Linked DNA regions of Homo sapiens: region 2 is linked to region 1. Evidence: fine-mapped expression QTL. Tissue or cell type: Th2 cells. Region 1 holds a variant in brackets; the other region holds the start of a gene. All regions are shown on one strand. Distances are from middle to middle.

Region 1 (8,106 bases):
GGTTTTGCTTGATTTTTAAACGTCCTATAAGTGGAATCACACAGTGAGTGTTCTTTTGTGTCTTGCTTTTTCCTCCCAGTTGTTTGTGAGATTCATCCTAGTGGTGGTTATGTGTGGTTGTGGATCTCTTGTTCTAATGACTGGTGAGATCCCATTGTGCGGACGCACCACGGCTGCTTCATCCACTCCAACAGGGATGGGGGATTTGAGAAGCCTGCTGATCAGCGGCTGCAATGAGCCGTGTCTCATTGTTGTGTCTTTTGGGGACATACAGGTGAATTTCTGTTGGGTGTGGCATTGCTGGGCCACAGGTAGACATACCTGCAGCTTTTTTTTTTCTTTTATTTGAGAAGAGGTCTCACTCTGTTGCCCAGGCTGGAGTGCAGTGGTGTGAACGTGGTTCACTGCAGCCTTGATCTGGGCTCAAGAGATCCTCCTACCTCAGCCTCCCGAGTAGCTGGGACTACACGTACATGCCACCCCACCATGCTTGGCTAATTTTTTAAAAAATTATTTTTATAGAGACAGGGACTCATTATGTTTCCCAGGCTGTTCTTGAACTCCTGAGCTCAAGCAATCCTCCTGCCTCAGCTTCCCAAAGTGCAGGGATTATAGGCATGAGGCACCATGCCAGGCCATACCTGTGGCTTTAACAGACACTGGTGGTGCTTCCAGTTCACACTCCCACTGTGAGTGTAGGCAATGCCCAGTTGCTCCCTGCATTAGTTTCTATAGCTGCTGTTAACAAATTACCACAAGCGTATGAAACAAAGCACATTTCTTATCTCACAGTTTTTATGGTTCAAAAGTCCGAGTGCAGCCGAGTGTGGTGGCTCAGACCTGTAATCCCAGCACTTTGAGAGGCCAAGGTGGAAGGATTGCTTGAGTCCAGGAGTTCAAGACCAGCCTGGGCAACAGGGTGAGGCCCCTGTCTTTACAAAAACAATAATAAAAAAAATAGCTGGGTGTGGTGGTGCATGCCTGTAGTTCCAGCTACTTGGGAGGCTGAGGGGGAAGATGGCTTTACCTGGGAGGTGGAGGTTGCAGTGAGCTGTGATCGAGCCACTGCTTTCCAGCCTGGGTGTCAAGAGTGAGACCCTGTCTCAAACAACAAAACAAAAAGAGCAGTTGTTGTTACTACTTGGAAAAAATTAACCATTTTAAAAAAACATGCAAACATGTATACGGGGCGTGTATTTTTCCTTGTGCCTCAGGATCTAATGTGGCCCATCCCATCACTGGTATCTCAAAATTATAAATCTGTGGGGGAAAGAAAGAGATCAGACTGTTACTGTGTCTATGTAGAAAAAGGAAGACATAAGAAACTCCATTTTGATCTGTACTAAGAAAAATTCTTCTGCCTTGAGATGTTGTTAATCTGTAACCCTAGCCCCAACCCTGTGCTCACAGAAACGTGCTGTATTGACTCAAGGTTTAATGGAGTTAGGGCTGTGCAGGATGTGCCTTGGTAAACATGTGTTTGCAGGCAGTATGCTTGGTAAAAGTCATCGCCATTCTCCAGTCTCGAGTACCCAGGGACACAATGCACTGCGGAAGGCCGCAGGGACCTCTGCCTGAGAAAGCCTGGGTATTGTCCAAGGTTTGCCCCCCTGAGACAGCCTGAGATGTGGCCTCGTGGGAAGGGAAAGACCTTACCGTCCCCCAGCCTGACACCTGTAAAGGGTCTATGCTGAGGAGGATTAGTGAAAGAGGAAGGCCTCTTTGCACTTGAGATAAGAGGAAAGCCTCTGTCTCCTGCTCCTCATCCCTGGGAATGGAATGTCTCGGTAGAAAACCTGATTGTACATTCCATTTACTGGGATAGGAGAAAACTGTCTTACGGCTGGAGGTGAGACATGCTGGTGGCAGTACTGCTCTTTACTGCACTGAGGTGTTTGGGTAAAGTCAAACATAAATCTGGCCTACGTGCACATCCAGGTGTGATACCATACCTTGTTTTAATATGAATACTCTCTCTTAGCTGAGAAAGCTGGATGGACTCCATTTAGCTCCTTCATTTGCAAGACCTCAAGGGCTCCTTACCCACTCCCTTCCTCAAGGACTTAACTTGAGCAAGCTGACTCTCAGCATATCAAAGAGTGCAATTAACTGATAAGGTACTGTGGCAGGCTATGTCTGCAGTTGCCAGGAATTCACTGGGGTAATAGTACCCTAAAGCCCCCGCGTTTGTGTCTGGCAGATAGCACCCAGAGCCCCCGCACCTATCACCTTGTGATGGATTTAAAGCCTCTGTACCTGGAACTGTTTGTTTTCCTGTAACCATTTGTCTTTTTAACTTTTTTTTTTGCCTGCTTTACTTCTGTAAGATTGCTACAGCTAGGTTCCCCCTCCTCTAAACCAAAGTATAAAAGAAAATCTAGCCCCTTCTTCGGGGCTGAGAGAATTTTGAGCACTAGCCATCTCTCGGTCACCGGCTGATAAAGGACTCCTGAATTAGTCTCAAAGTGTGGCGTTTCTCTATAACTTGCTTGGTTACATCACAGGCACAGCACCTTTCCTTAAACTTATTTATGACACAGAGTCCTTTGCTCACATGTTTTCCTGCTGACCCTCTCCCCACCATTACCGTGTAGTCCTGCCACATCCCCCTTGCCAAGATGGTAGAGATAGTGATCAATAAATACTGAGGGAACTCAGACTGCTGCTGGTGTGGGTCCTCTGTATGCTGAGTGCCGGTCCCCTGGGCCCACTTTTCTTTCTCTACACTTTGTCTCTGTGTCTTATTTCTTTTCTCAGTCTCTTGTCTCCACCTTGCGAGAAATACCCACAGGTGTGGAGGGGCAGGCCCCCTTCAATCAGTAATGAATAGGTGTGAAACGCTGGTAAGGCTGGTTTAGTGCATAGGGAGCCTTCCTTCACATGGCTGGTGTCATTACGATCCTGTGGCAGACGCAGGGATGTGTGTCTCCCACAGGTACGAAGAGATGTCTTCTGTGCCCAGAGGAGCAGTACTCAAGCCGCACCAGAGATGGCTGCCTGCCCAGGACAGAGACCTTCCTGGCCTTTGACGACCCCCTGGGACTCATGCTCGCCTTGGTGGCGCTCATGCTGGCCAGCCTGGCAGTGCTGGTCCTCAGACTGTTCTGAAGCACCGAGACACACCTGTGGTCGGGGCCAACAACAGAGCTCTCAGCTGCACGCCGCTCACCTCCCTGACCCTCTGTGCCCTCTGTCCCTTGCCTTGCCTTGGTTGTCCCACAGCTGCCACCTGCCGCCTCTACCAGACCACAGTTGCTGTTGTGTTCACCATGGCTGTCTCTTCCGTCCTGGCCTTCAGGGTCACCAGGTGACAGGGTCTGGGTGTGCCTGGGACCTGGC[G/A]CTTCCACCTCGGTGGTCCTTGCTGCTTCCTTGGTGCAGGTTGTTCTCTGTGGCATCTGGCTGGGCACTTCCCCACCATTCCCAGATGGGGACATGGCCTCAGAGCCCAGCCACATTGTCATCCAGTGCTGAGAGGGCTCTGCTGTCGCTTTCTCCTGTGTGCTGGGCTACCTGGGCCTCCTGGCTGGGGGCACCTTCTTTGTAGCCTTCCTGGCCAGGGGTCTGCCAGACGCCTTCAACAAGTCCAAGTTCCTCACCTTCAGCGTGCTGCTGTTCTGCAGCTTCTGGACAACCTTCCTGCCCCTGTACCACAGCGCACAGGGCAAGTCCACTGTGGCCGTGGAGATCTTTTCCATCCTGGCTTCCATGGCAGGGCTGCTGGGTGGCATCTTTGCCCCAAATGTTACATCATCCTGCTAAAGCCCGAGCGGAATGCCCCAGACTGGGTGAGGCGAGGACACTGGGATCGGTGGGAAACGTGGAGCCAGGAGCTCCTCAGACCTGCGCCATAAACCCACGAGCCAGGCCTTGTTGAAGATATCAGGGCCCCTGATTTGAGCTCTGGGCTTCTGTGTGGATTAAAAGATAGTTAAAGGATGGGCGTGGTGGCTCACGCCTGTAATCCTACCACTTTGGGAGGCTGAGATGGGCAGATCACTTGAGGTCAGGAGTTCAAGACCAGCCTGGCCAACATGGTGAAACCCTGTCTGTACTCAAAATACAAAAATTAACCAGGTGTCGTGGTGTGCACCTATAATCCCAGCTACTTGGGAGGCTGAGGCAGGAGAATCACTTGAACCTGGGTGGCAGAGGTTGCAGTGAGCCAAGATCATGCCATTGCACTCCAGCCTGGGTGACAGAGCAAGACTCCATCTCAAAAAAAAAAAAAAAAAAAAAAAAAAAGAATAAAAGATAAAATTCAACAATAAGAAAACAAGCAATTTCAGCTACTTTTTTTTTAAAGCCAAGCAAAGCATTTGAACACAGTTCACCACAAAATATGCAAATGGAAAGGAAGTATATGAAAAGATGTTTAATGTTAGTAATTAGGGAAATCAAAACTACAGTGCAATACCCAATACACACCTATTAGAATTGCAAAAAATAAACCATATCATGTTGCCAAGGATATGGAGGAATTACAACTCTTATACAGTCCTTGTCCATGATTCAACTTATGATTTTTCAAAATTATGATGGTATACAAGCTATACAAATTCAGTACTCTCCTCAACTTGACGGATTTATTTGGGTATTGTAAATCATTTGATTCATGGTATTTTCAGTTTACCATGGGCTTATTTGGACCTAACCCTATCGTAGTTCAGGAGCATCTGTGTATTGCTGGTGGGAATGTGAAACGGTACAAACACTTTGGAAAACAAATGGAGAGTTTCTTAAAATGTTGAACTTTCGTGGGGCATGGTGGCTCACGCCTGTAATCCAGCACTTCGGAAGGCTGAGGCGGGTGGATCACGAGGTCAGGAGATTGAGACCATCCTGGCTAACACGGTGAAACCCCGTCTCTACTAAAATGAAAAAATTAGCTTGGTGTGGTGGTGGGCGCCTGTAGTCCCAGCTACTCGGGAGGCCGAGGCAGGAGAATGGTGTGAACCGCGGAGGCGGAGTTTGCAGTGAGCCGAGATCGCGCCACTCCACTCCAGTCCGGGCGACAGAGTGAGACTCCATCTCAAAAAAAAAAAGTTGAATTTTCATTTCCTATATGATCCAGCCATTCTACGCCTAGGCATTTATCCAACAGGAAAGGAAATGCGTGTCCTTAGGAAGACTTGTACACGAATGTTCACAGAAGTTTATTTTTAACAGCCGCAAATAGAAAACAGTTTACATGTCCACGGACAGATGCGTGATAAACAATGGTGGTGCATCCATGAGATGGAACACCACTCAGCAATAGAAGGAATGAGCTACTTACATATGCAACAAAATGGATAATCTCAAAATAATTATGCTGAGTAAAATAAACCAGATCACAAAAGAGTACACTCAAATGTGTCACTGCATTTATATACAACTGTTAGAAAATCCAAACTAATCTGTATATATAACAGAAAGCAGATTGGCGGTGGTTTGAAAGCAGGGCAGAGAGGGGCGTGGAATGCTGAACGGAGGGGCTTCAAGGATCTTGGGAAACCAGAGCTAGTGATGGTTTTGCGGGTTTAGATATTTGCCAAAACGCATGCAGGCGAGCGCCGTGGGAGGGAGGGAGGGCGGGTGCACAGCCGCCGGCCGCCCGGGGCTGGAGGACGCGCTTGCTGCCTGACAGGGTTCCCCCAACATCCCCGGGGCCGCGACTGAAGTGGCTGAGGCCAACCGAGGGCCCAAAGCGCCCGTGGCTTCGGCTGGGCGGGTTCTTAATATTTTATTACATATATATATGCATATATATATTTACGCATATATTTATGTATGTGTACACATACATGTATATATTATAAACTATATACAAATTATACAAAATATATGTAATTAAATATACATACATATGTACATAATTTTATTTATTTTGGAGACAGGATCTCACGCTGTCGCCCAGGCTGGAGTGCAGTGGCAGGATCATAGCTCACTGCAGTCTTGACCTCCTGGGCTCAGGTGATCCTTCCACCGCAGCCTCCGGAGTAGCTGGGAAAACAGGTGGGCGGTAACCCCCCCCACGAATTATTTAAAGTTTTTTTAAGAGATCAGGCGGGAGGGCCATGTCTACCCATGCTGCCGGGGGTGGCGAAACCCCATGTCTACTAAAAATAGAAAAATTAGCCGGGCGTGGTAGCGTGCGCCTATGATCCCAGTTACTCAGGAGGCTGAGGCAGAATCGCTTGAACCTGGGGGGCGGAGGTTGCAGTGAGCCAAGATGGCACCATTGCACTCCAGCCTCCCATAATAGGTGCACCCAAGATGATGGTATGGCCCTGCCTCTGCCACCTCTCCATGCTGCCGGGGGCTCAAGCGATTCTGCCGCCTTGCCCTCCTAAAGTGCCGGGATTACAAGCGTGAGCCACCGCGCCCAGGCCTAGAGGTTTAGATCCACCTAGAGCAAGTGACTAAAGCGGGCGGGCAAGGTACTGCCGGTGGGTCTGGCCTGGTCGTCCTGGATTCGGCCAAGCCTGGATTCCACTGTAGCCACATGACCTAGGGGTCCAGGACCCGCTGGGCTGGTGTTCGGGGCGGCCTGGAGACTACACATCAGGGCGGCGCCACTACGCAAGCGCGGGTTACGTCATCGGCTGGGCGCCGAGCCCAAGCGGCGCGTTACCCAGGTAACCCTCGTGGACGCTGAGGCGCGCGGCTGTTGGCTGGAGCCAGCCTCTAGTCGCTCTGACAGGCTTCTGGTTTTCTGGTCCTCTGGTCTTTCTAGGCGGGACCGAATGAGGTGAGGCAGCCCAGGCCACAGGGTGCGCCACCATCGTCTGGTATTTTGATGCCAAAGAACGGGCAGCCAGACGAGCATCAGCGTCAGGGCGGAGAGGCGCTTGTGCCCCGGAGCCAGGATGCAGCGCCTGGGGAGAGTCATTGCCTCCTGCCGGCATCCCAAGCCCGCCCGCTTCTCCGGCCTAGAATGCGGGGTGAGTCTCCAATCCGTTTGGCCGTGGCACCTTTTCCACCACTGGGCCGCCGCTGCTTGGGCTGGGTGAAAGGTGCCGAGAGGAGCATGGGTGTGGAAGTCCTGTCAGCTAAGAAATAAAAGTTTACCTCAGGGCTCCAAGACAAAAAAACTTACATTACTCACTTCAAACATGTGCAGTTTATCTGCAGTGTGCAATTATACCACAATTAAGTTGATTAAAAAAACAATAGGTAGGATACTATTTTTAGGACCTAGATCTAGTTGGGATCTTGAAAGTAATACATAAAACACAAGCTATGAAAGAAAAAACATTTCTAAAGAATCTTTTTCTTCAAAAGACACCACGGATGAGGTAAAAGGCAAGTCCAGGCTGGGCACGGTGACTCACACCTGTAATCCCAGCACTTTGGAAGACCAAGGCGGGCGGATCACTTGAGGTCAGGAGTTTAAGACCAGCGTGGCCAACATGGCGAAACCCCATCTCTACTAAAAATAGAAAAATTAGCCAGGCGTGGTATCGCGCGCCTGTAACCCCAGTTACTCAGGAGGCTGAGGCAGAATCCCTTGAACCTGGGAGGCGGAGGTTGTAGTGAGCCAAGATGGCACCATTGCACTCCAGCCTCCCATAATAGGTGCATCCAAAATGATGGTGTGGCTCTGCCTCCGCTACCTCCCAGAAGAGAATAGGGTGCTGCCCGCAACACTGGGTAACTGGAGTGGGAGGGAGCTTGGGCCAGAAGGGAGCAGTATCTCCACACACTTGCAACTTACTTCCTCCCCATCAAGGCCCTTGGTGAATAGCTCTGTATTGAGAGGCCTCCTTTATTTCTTGACTCCTTCTGAACATTACAGGCTATATTGCCCCTTATGATGCAAAACCTTGAACCTACGGTCTGTTGGCTCTACCTTTAAAGTATCAGCATGTCCGCAATCCAGCCACTGATCACCAATCTGATCCGAGCGGCTATCATCTTCCACCTAATTACTACATTGGTTTCACACATGACTCTACTGCTTTCCTTGGTTACTCTCCATACAGAGGCTAGAGCTCATCAATGCTCTACTCAGAACCCTGCCAGAGCCCTCATGATGCCTTCAACTTTCTCTACCATCTGGCCCCCTTATTGCCTCTATGACCACTGTTGTTCCCGCAGCTGACTAGGCAGGCCCTCACACCAGGG
Region 2 (8,106 bases), 380 kb before region 1:
CTGCCTTCCAGGCTGGAGGGCAGTGGTGCAATCTTGGCTCACTGAAACCTCCGCCTCCCAGGTTCAAGCAATTCTCCTGCCTCAGCTTCCTGAGTAGCTGGGACTACAGGTGCATGCCACCATGCCAGGCTAATTTTTGTATTTTTAGTAGAGCTGGGGTTTGGACATGTTGGCCAGGCTGGTCTTGAACTCTTGACCTCAGGTGATCCGTCCGCCTCAGCCTCCCAAAGTGATGGGATTACAGGCATAAGCCACTGCACCTGGCTGAGAACTTTTTTGTTTTTGGGTTTTTTGTTTGTTTGTTTTTGAGATGGAGTCTCACTCTGTCACCCAGGCTGGAGTGCAACGTTGCAATCTTGGCTCACTGCAACCTCCACCTCCTGGGTTGAAGCAATTCTCCTGCCTCAGCCTCCCAAGTTGCTGGGATTACAGACATGCGTCACCATGCTCAGCCCAGTTTTTTTTTTTTTTTTTTTTGAGATGGAGTTTCGCTCTTGTTGGCCAGGCTGGAGTGCAATGGCATGATTTCAGCTCATCCCAACCTCCACCTCCCAGGTTCAAGCGATTCTCCTGCATCAGCCTCCTAAGTAGCTGGGACAACAGGTGCACGCCACCATGCAAGGCTAATTTTTGTATTTTTAGTAGAGACGGGGCTTCACCATGTTGGCCAGGCTGGTCTCAAACCCCTGACCTCAGATGATCTGCCCGCCTCAGTCTCCCAAAGTGCTGGGATTACGGCGCCCGGCCCAGAACCACAGTTTTAAAACAATCATTTAACAAGTCTTCTTATACTTACATAGCCATCCCCACACAAAAATCTAGAAAAATGCCAAAAAGTTAACCTTGAGTATGTAAAGGGGAAGAAAGGAGCTATGTGCATTCGAAGGAGACTGCTGTTGATAGTTCCATTACAAAATGTACCCAAGGCCATTCTATCACTTGCCTCTGAGAATATACACAAAATACCTGTTTCTACAAATACAAGGAATGATGGGAAAAGAACACAGGACACTGAAACTCTCAGTACTATTTCATAGTCTGGCTGCAAGAAAAAAAAAACTCACAGTCTCGTGAAGGGCATTCACGCAGGGCTTTCACTATGCAGCAAAAAATTGCAAACACCAAATTCCCCAGGAAGGGTTTGGCCCAACAGTGGAGCCCTGCACAGGTGTTTAAAATACAGTGAACTCCCATTGATGTTTATTTCCCTAGTGGAACAGGCACTTAACAAACGTTTAATAGATCAAGGAGTTCAAGGCCAGCCTGGCCAACATGGTGAAACCCTGTCTCTACTAAAAAGACAAAAATTAGCCAGGTGTGGTGGCATGCACCTGTAGTTCCAGCTACTAGGGAGGCTGAGGCAGGAAAATCACCTGAACCTAGGAGGTGGAGGTTGCAGTGAGCCGAGATCGTGCCACTGCACTCCAGCCTGGGTGACAGAGCGACTCCATCTCAAAAAAAAAAAAAAAAAAAAAAAAAAAAAGTAACAGTGGCCAGTGTGGCCCACAAAGTCTAAAACATTATCTGGGCCTATAATGAAAATGTTTGTGGGCTGGGCGCAGTGGCTCATGCCTATAACCCCAGCACTTCGGGAGGCTGAGGCAGGAAAGTCGCATGACCCTGGGGAGGCAGAGGTTGCAGTGAGCCGAGATCGCACCACTGCACTCCAGCCTGGGAGGCAGAGAGAGACTCTGTCTCACAAATAAATAAATAACGCCAGGCGTGGTGGCTCATGCCTGTAATCCCAGCACTTTGGGAGGCTGAGGCAGGCTGATCACCTGAAGTCAGGAGTTAAGAGACCAGCCTGACCAATATGATGAAACCCTGTCTCAACTAAAAATAAAAAAATTAGCTGGGTGCGGTGGCATGTGCCTGTAATCCCCGCTACTTGGGAGGCTGAGACAGGAGAATCGCTTGAACCCAGGAGGCAGAGGTTGCAGTGAGCCAAGATCGCACCATTGCACTCCAGACTGGGCGACAAGAACGAAACTCTGTCTCAAAAAATAAATAAATAATTAAAATGTGGCCGGGCAGATCATGAGGTCAGGAGTTCGAGACCAGCCTAACCAACATGGTGAAACCCCGTCTCTACTAAAAATACAAAAATTAGCCAGGCGTGGTGGTGTGCGCCTGTAATCTCAGCTACTTGGGAGGCTGAGGCGGGAGCATTGCTTGAACCCGGGAGGCGGAGGTTGTGGTGAGCTAAGATCGTGCCATTGCACTCCAGCCTGGGCAATAAGAGCGAAACTCCGTTTCAAAAAAATAAATAAATAAATAAACAAACAAAAAATAATAATAATATTTAAAATGTTTTTGGACCCCCCGAAATAAACCCCTGAAGGAAAGAAAAGCCAAGATCTACAAGATATTCAGAGTGAAAAACAAGGCTGAATTATCCATTAGGCATAGTGCCTAAGTCCCCTGACATCTTTACAGACAACAAAAAAGTTTTCATTCTTTATAAAACAAAAGGTAGCAGGTTTGGTGGCATGCATCTTTGGTCCCAGCTAGTTGGAGTCTAAGACAGGAAGATCCCCTGAGCCCAGGTGTATTGAGGCTGCAGTGAACTGTGATCACACCACTGCACTCCAGCCTGGGTGACAGAGAGTGATCTTATCTCAAAGATAAAACTTTAATGATTAAAAAAAAAGAGGAGGAAAGTGAATAAAGTGCAACCCAAGTTATATTCATCTTTATATCAATGCAGTCACAAAATATAATTTCAAACACTTTCTTTTAATGGAGGAAGGGCTCACAAAAGCTAAAGTTCTTAAGGCCCACAAAATTCTTAATGATGCCTTCATGGGGAGGGGAAAAAAAGGGTATGTGTAAAACCGTACGGAGTAGGAACAAAGTAGGACAACTCACACTTCCCAATTGCAAAACTTAATACAAAGCAAGAAAGTGTGGTACTGGCATAGAGACAGACATATAGACCAGTGGAATATAACTGAAAGTCTGTAATGAAACCCATACATCTGGGCCGGGCGCGGTGGCTCACGCCTGTAATCCCAGCACTTTGGGAGGCCGAGACGGGCGGATCACGAGGTCAGGAGATCGAGACCATCCTGGCTAACTCGGTGAAACCCTGTCTCTACTAAAAATAAAAAAAAAAAAATCAGCCAGGTGCAGTGGCGGGCACCTGTAGTCCCAGCTACTCAGGAGGCTGAGGCAGGAGAATGGTGTGAACCCGGTAGGCAGATCGCGTCACTGCACTCCAGCCCAGGGAACAGAGTGAGACTCCGTCTCAAAAAAAAAAAAAAAAAAAAAAAACTACGGCCAGCTGATTTATGACAAGTGGCCAAGGCCATTCAATTGAGGGAAAAAAAACATCTCTTTAGGAGATGGTACTGGATAACTGGATATTCACATGCAAAAGAATGACACTGGATGTTATGTATTTTACTACAAAAACAGTAACAAAAATACCATATGTGAGATGTGATGCTCCTTCTGGTGAAGGAGTCCTCTCATGACAGAAGTTGTAGTCATCTTTGAACAGGACGTAAGAGCAGATGTGGTAGATGTGGTGGTCAAGGGATCCCTTCTTTACCTGTTATGATCTCTATTCTTGACTTAATGGCACAGCAACAAGTTTGATGTGTGCCTTCCTGGAATAATGTCCGCCCCCAGCCAGGAAGGCCAATCACCAAGTTCCCCTCACCTGCAGGGAAATGTCATTGATCTGCACATCATCGGTGCTCCACTTCCCAAAGAGCTTGATGTCTGGGGTCTCTGCCACCGCTGGTGCTGCTGTCTCCCACTCGGTCATCCTGGGACAGGGTGATGACAGGAAAAAAACGTCAGAGCTCAGCTAGCATGGAGCAAAGGCGCACTCATTCCCAACTCTGAGGCTAGCCGCCATCTAGTGATGAACTGGGGGGTCGCAAAGGACCAAGAAAGGCCGTGAACGTGTTTTCAAGCACTAGAAAAATTACTCAGCTGTCAGCAAGAAGCATCTGTCTTTCACCTAGAACCCCTGGGCCCAAGACTTGGCAGCCACCAGTCAACAGCTGCTGCACTGGGACCAAGGTATAATGGCTCAGCAGATGCCATACGTCCTCACACTGCATGGGCTGTAATTCAAACCACAATCTCGCGATTTACATGGTCTTTGACCCAAGTCAACGTTCCGTCTCGGACTGTTTCTTTGGCCGTGAGGCGGGACCGTTATATGACATCAAGGACCACGGTAGGTACCGTGTGGCACAATCAACCCAAAGGTTTCGATTCTTGACCGACAGTATGAAGGCTCTAGGGGCTGCTATTACGGGGGGAAAGTTACACAGAGCAAAAGAGGGCATCGTGTCCCTAAGAAATGGAAACTTCCTATCTCAGAGTACAACCGCATAGTTCAAACCAAGTTCCCCAAGCCCCGCTATGGGGAAAAGCTAGAAGCGGCGGAGCACCAGAAAGAAGTCAAGAGTAACTCGGCCCGCGCCCGTTTCTTCTACATTTTCTTTTCCAGAGACAGAAATGAGACCTAATGAGAAAAGGCCCAGGCCGCGGGGCACTATCCCCGAAAGACCATGAACCGTCCCTAGGATCCCCGGCCCCGCGGCGGTCTCACCTGAGAACACAGCCTGAGCGTCTCTGTCACTCGGCGTAGACCACGCGCCGCCCTGGTACAGACAGGAAGAGGCCGCGCGCCGCGGGCCAACACTTTTAACTGGGAAGAAAACTTCCGGGTCAGCACGGGTGACGCTTGCGTAAAAGGCCATCGTGTCCCTATAGACCAATCCGGAGGAAGGTTGTAGAGGAACCTTTTGGGCTAGACGGAATGGGTGCAGCCCAAGCGCATGCGCAGTTGCAGAAGCGGCCCTAGAAGCGTGCCTGGCGGATGTCCGCTACCCCGTAGTTGCCCTGTCTTGTGGGCGCCTGCAAAAGCGCAGAGATTTCCGTGAGACCAACGCAGCCATGTCTAATAAAGAAAAAAGTCTGGCCAGCGCTCGCTTCTTTGTTCAGCTGCTGACCTTAAATCCCACCTGCCGCGGGAGTAGCCAGTTCAGTTCCCTCTGACTCCTCGCCGCGGCCACAGCCGCCTCACCGGCACGCGCCTGATGCGGACCTGGGTTAGCGGAGTGAGGCCCAGTGGTCACCGCCGCCCTCCGCAGGTCCAGGTTGCCGTGCGCATGTGCCTGCCACACGCGGCCCCTCCCCCACCGCCCGGCCCAGGAGCACCACGCTCGCGAGCCCCGGATCCCGAGCCTCTGGCTGGGCCTGTTTCCCTGCTCGACCTTTCCTGCCATACCACGCTGGGTTCCCCCACAGCCTCCGCGCCCTTCACCTCTGCTATGCAGTAATCTCGCCCGTGGAAGAGGGGAGACCGCCGGCACGAGGGCCCGGGGTTGCGGCGGCGGGAGCAGCGCGACCCGTCTCTGGGTGGAGCGCGGAGGTAGCCTACAGGCTACGCGCGGTGTCCGGGAGGAGGGGGTCGGCAGGTCGGGGACCCTTCGTGTTTGTCCTTGTGTCCTCCACGGCCGGGGAGCCCGCGCGAGGGGTTGCAGCCCCCTGCCCTCAGGGCTCACGTCACGAGGCCCTCGTGTCTGCAGACGTGGCTCTCAGGGGTGCCTCTTGAACTGGCCGACCTCTCCAAGGGTCAGAAACGTAGGTTTCTGGCCAAAGGTTGAAAGGAGGGATGGAAGATTTAGCCATGAGATGAAGGAGATTATTCCCGCCAGCACACAATCCCCTGCCCCCCAACTTCTGTCCCTTCCCCCAGCTGCCTCTGAACAGGTAGGGCCTCTGAACAGCTCAGCCCTGGCTGGGAGCAGACAGCGAACCCTCTCACAGGGCCTGAACTATTGCGTGGGATTGAGGATGTGGGCCTTCGACCCGGGGTCCTCATCCGTGCGTGGGGTTGGCACGGTAGTGAGTGCCCCAGCTCACTCTACTCACTTGGCCACCCTGGCAGCCAGTGTGGACAGTCTGCCTGCCCATGACCCCTTCATACCCCTCTGCCTGTCCCAGCCTCTTAGATCTAGGCTCATGAGCAGAACTGGGACTTTCCAGAGGTAGCAACTACTTTGACTGTGTCTCTGCCTGCAGCAGGCATAGACATAACCTTTACGAGGCGACTCCAGGACCACCTGGGGCCGCCCTGTCTCTGATGCCCATCTCTGCCTCCAAGGGGTTATCCCTCCAACTCGGGATCCGAAGGGCCCAGCCACCTGACCCAGGTCCCAGGGCTGGGCCTGCCCCCTACTCCCATCCCTGAGGCGTGCACATAGCAGGTGCCCAGCAGCTGTGTTTCTTCACTGCCTGACTGTAAAGGCTCTTCTTACCCCAATTCTGGGGCGTTTCTGTCCAAATATGCTGAGGACTCCCCACAGTGGGCCCTTGGACTGTGGTCAGTCACAGCTCATGAAAGGACACATGCCCTGAAGCTGGGCTGGTCAAGGGGTCAGACCTCAGCCTCTGGTGAGGGGCACGGCCTACTGCCACCGCCTAATGGCCTTTACCCCTGCCCTCCATCCTGTGCAGAGTAGCAGCCTTGGGGCTCCCACTGGGGTCTGTGTGGTTGCAGGAGGGGCTAGGTGGGCTTCTCCCTGGTCTTGAGTGAGGGGCATGGGGGTGCTGGTTGTAGGGAGGGTGGGAGAAAACAGGCAGCACTCATCAGGACAGTGAGCCCACCCCTCTGAACCTGTTTTCCCCTTCAGTGTGGAAATGAGAATGCAATGAGGCAACGTCAATGTGAACCCTGTGGCCTGGCTACCATGGTCATTTGATAATGGACATCTTTACAGACCTCATGAGAATGACTCATCGTGCTGCAGAGGGCAGGTGCCCTCAAGTGTGGCGTGGTGAATACTGCAGAGCCGAGACTCATGCACCCCCCACCCCCGCCACCAGGTCCAGGGTGGTCCAGCCTCCCCAGGTCCCCAAGGTGCTACGATAAGATGCAGAGTCTGACCTCATAGATCTAGGGCTGCTGGTGCTGTGTTCTTCAGACTGGATGAGGACCCCAGAGACTCTGCAGAGATCTACCTCACTTCTGGTACATTGTGTCCATCCTGAGTGGCCGGCCCCAGACTGGACTCCTCACTTCTGGGAAGGCACCCTCTGGGCCCTGCTGGGCCACCTGCCCACTCTCCAGGCAGTCACTTTGCCTGTCCACCCTACCAGCCACAGTCTTACTGTTAGCTGATCTTACATCCTTGTGATGGCTCCTTTTTTTTTTTTGTGACGGAGTCTCACTCTGTTGCCCAGGCTGGAGTGCAGTGGCGCAATCTTGGCTCACTGCAAGCTCCGCCTCCTGGGTTCATGCCATTCTCCTGCCTCAGCCTCCCGAGTAGCTGGGACTACAGGCGCCCGCCACCACGCCCGGCTATTTTTTTTGTATTTTTAGTAGAGATGGGGTTTCACTGTTAGCCAGGATGGTCTCGATCTCCTAACCTCGTGATCCGCCTGCCTCGGCCTCCCAAAGTGCTGGGATTACAGGTGTGAGCCACCGCACCTGGCCGTGATAGCTCCTTAATGCCTTTACTGGCACCTTGGTTGTCTGTTGAAGTCCCCAGCCTGATTATCAACTCGTTTGGAGTGTGCTGGATTCAGTCCACCCAGTTGCCTGGCAGAGCCAAGCCTGGCCCTGCCGCATCCCAAACTTGATCTTGTGCCCATGGCTGATACTTCATGGGCTACTTTGGCCTAGCCACTGTCTGCTTCTATGGGATGCCCACCTGTAATGGATTGAATGGTGGCCCCCAAAAAGGTAAGTTCATGCCCTAATACCCAGACCCAGCGAATGTGACCTATTGGAAAAAAATCTTTGCAGATGTAATTTAGTCAAGGATCCCAAGATGAGAGCATCTAGGATTAGTAGGGTGGACCCTAAATCCAATGACAAGTGTCCTTATAAGAGACAGAAGAGGGCCGGGCATGGTGGCTCATGCCTGTAATCCCAGCACTTTGGGAGGCCGAGGCGGGCACATCACGAGGTCAGGAGATCGAGACCATCTTGGCTAACACAGTGAAACCCCATCTCTACTAAAAATACAAAAAAATTAGCCAGGCGTGGTGGCGGGCGCTTGTAGTCTCAGCTACTCGGGAGGCTGAAGCAAGAGAATCACTTGAACCTGGGCGGTGGAGGTTGCAGTGAGCCAAGAT

The links. PIP is the estimated chance that this variant, and not a neighbour inherited with it, causes the effect.
Region 2: RPS5 starts here. The variant in region 1 is fine-mapped to the expression of RPS5 in Th2 cells (Schmiedel 2018, PIP 0.93).

The regions. Positions count from the first base shown.
Region 1 is chr19:58,008,256-58,016,361 of GRCh38, reverse strand. It overlaps the pseudogene VN2R19P. Among named protein-coding and RNA genes, the nearest start is that of ZNF606-AS1, 9.4 kb to the right of the region's middle. RefSeq lists enhancers at 6,299-6,358, 6,369-6,418. The variant G/A (reference allele first, on the strand shown) is at 3,340.
Region 2 is chr19:58,383,804-58,391,909 of GRCh38, reverse strand. It overlaps RPS5 (ribosomal protein S5), which reads right to left and starts at 4,641. Exons shown (of 6, transcript NM_001009.4): 1 at 4,571-4,641; 2 at 3,665-3,773. The coding sequence starts at 3,772. It overlaps MIR4754 (microRNA 4754), which reads left to right and starts at 5,052; the gene lies at 5,052-5,140. RefSeq lists enhancers at 4,331-4,380, 4,574-4,868, 5,931-6,000, 6,021-6,240.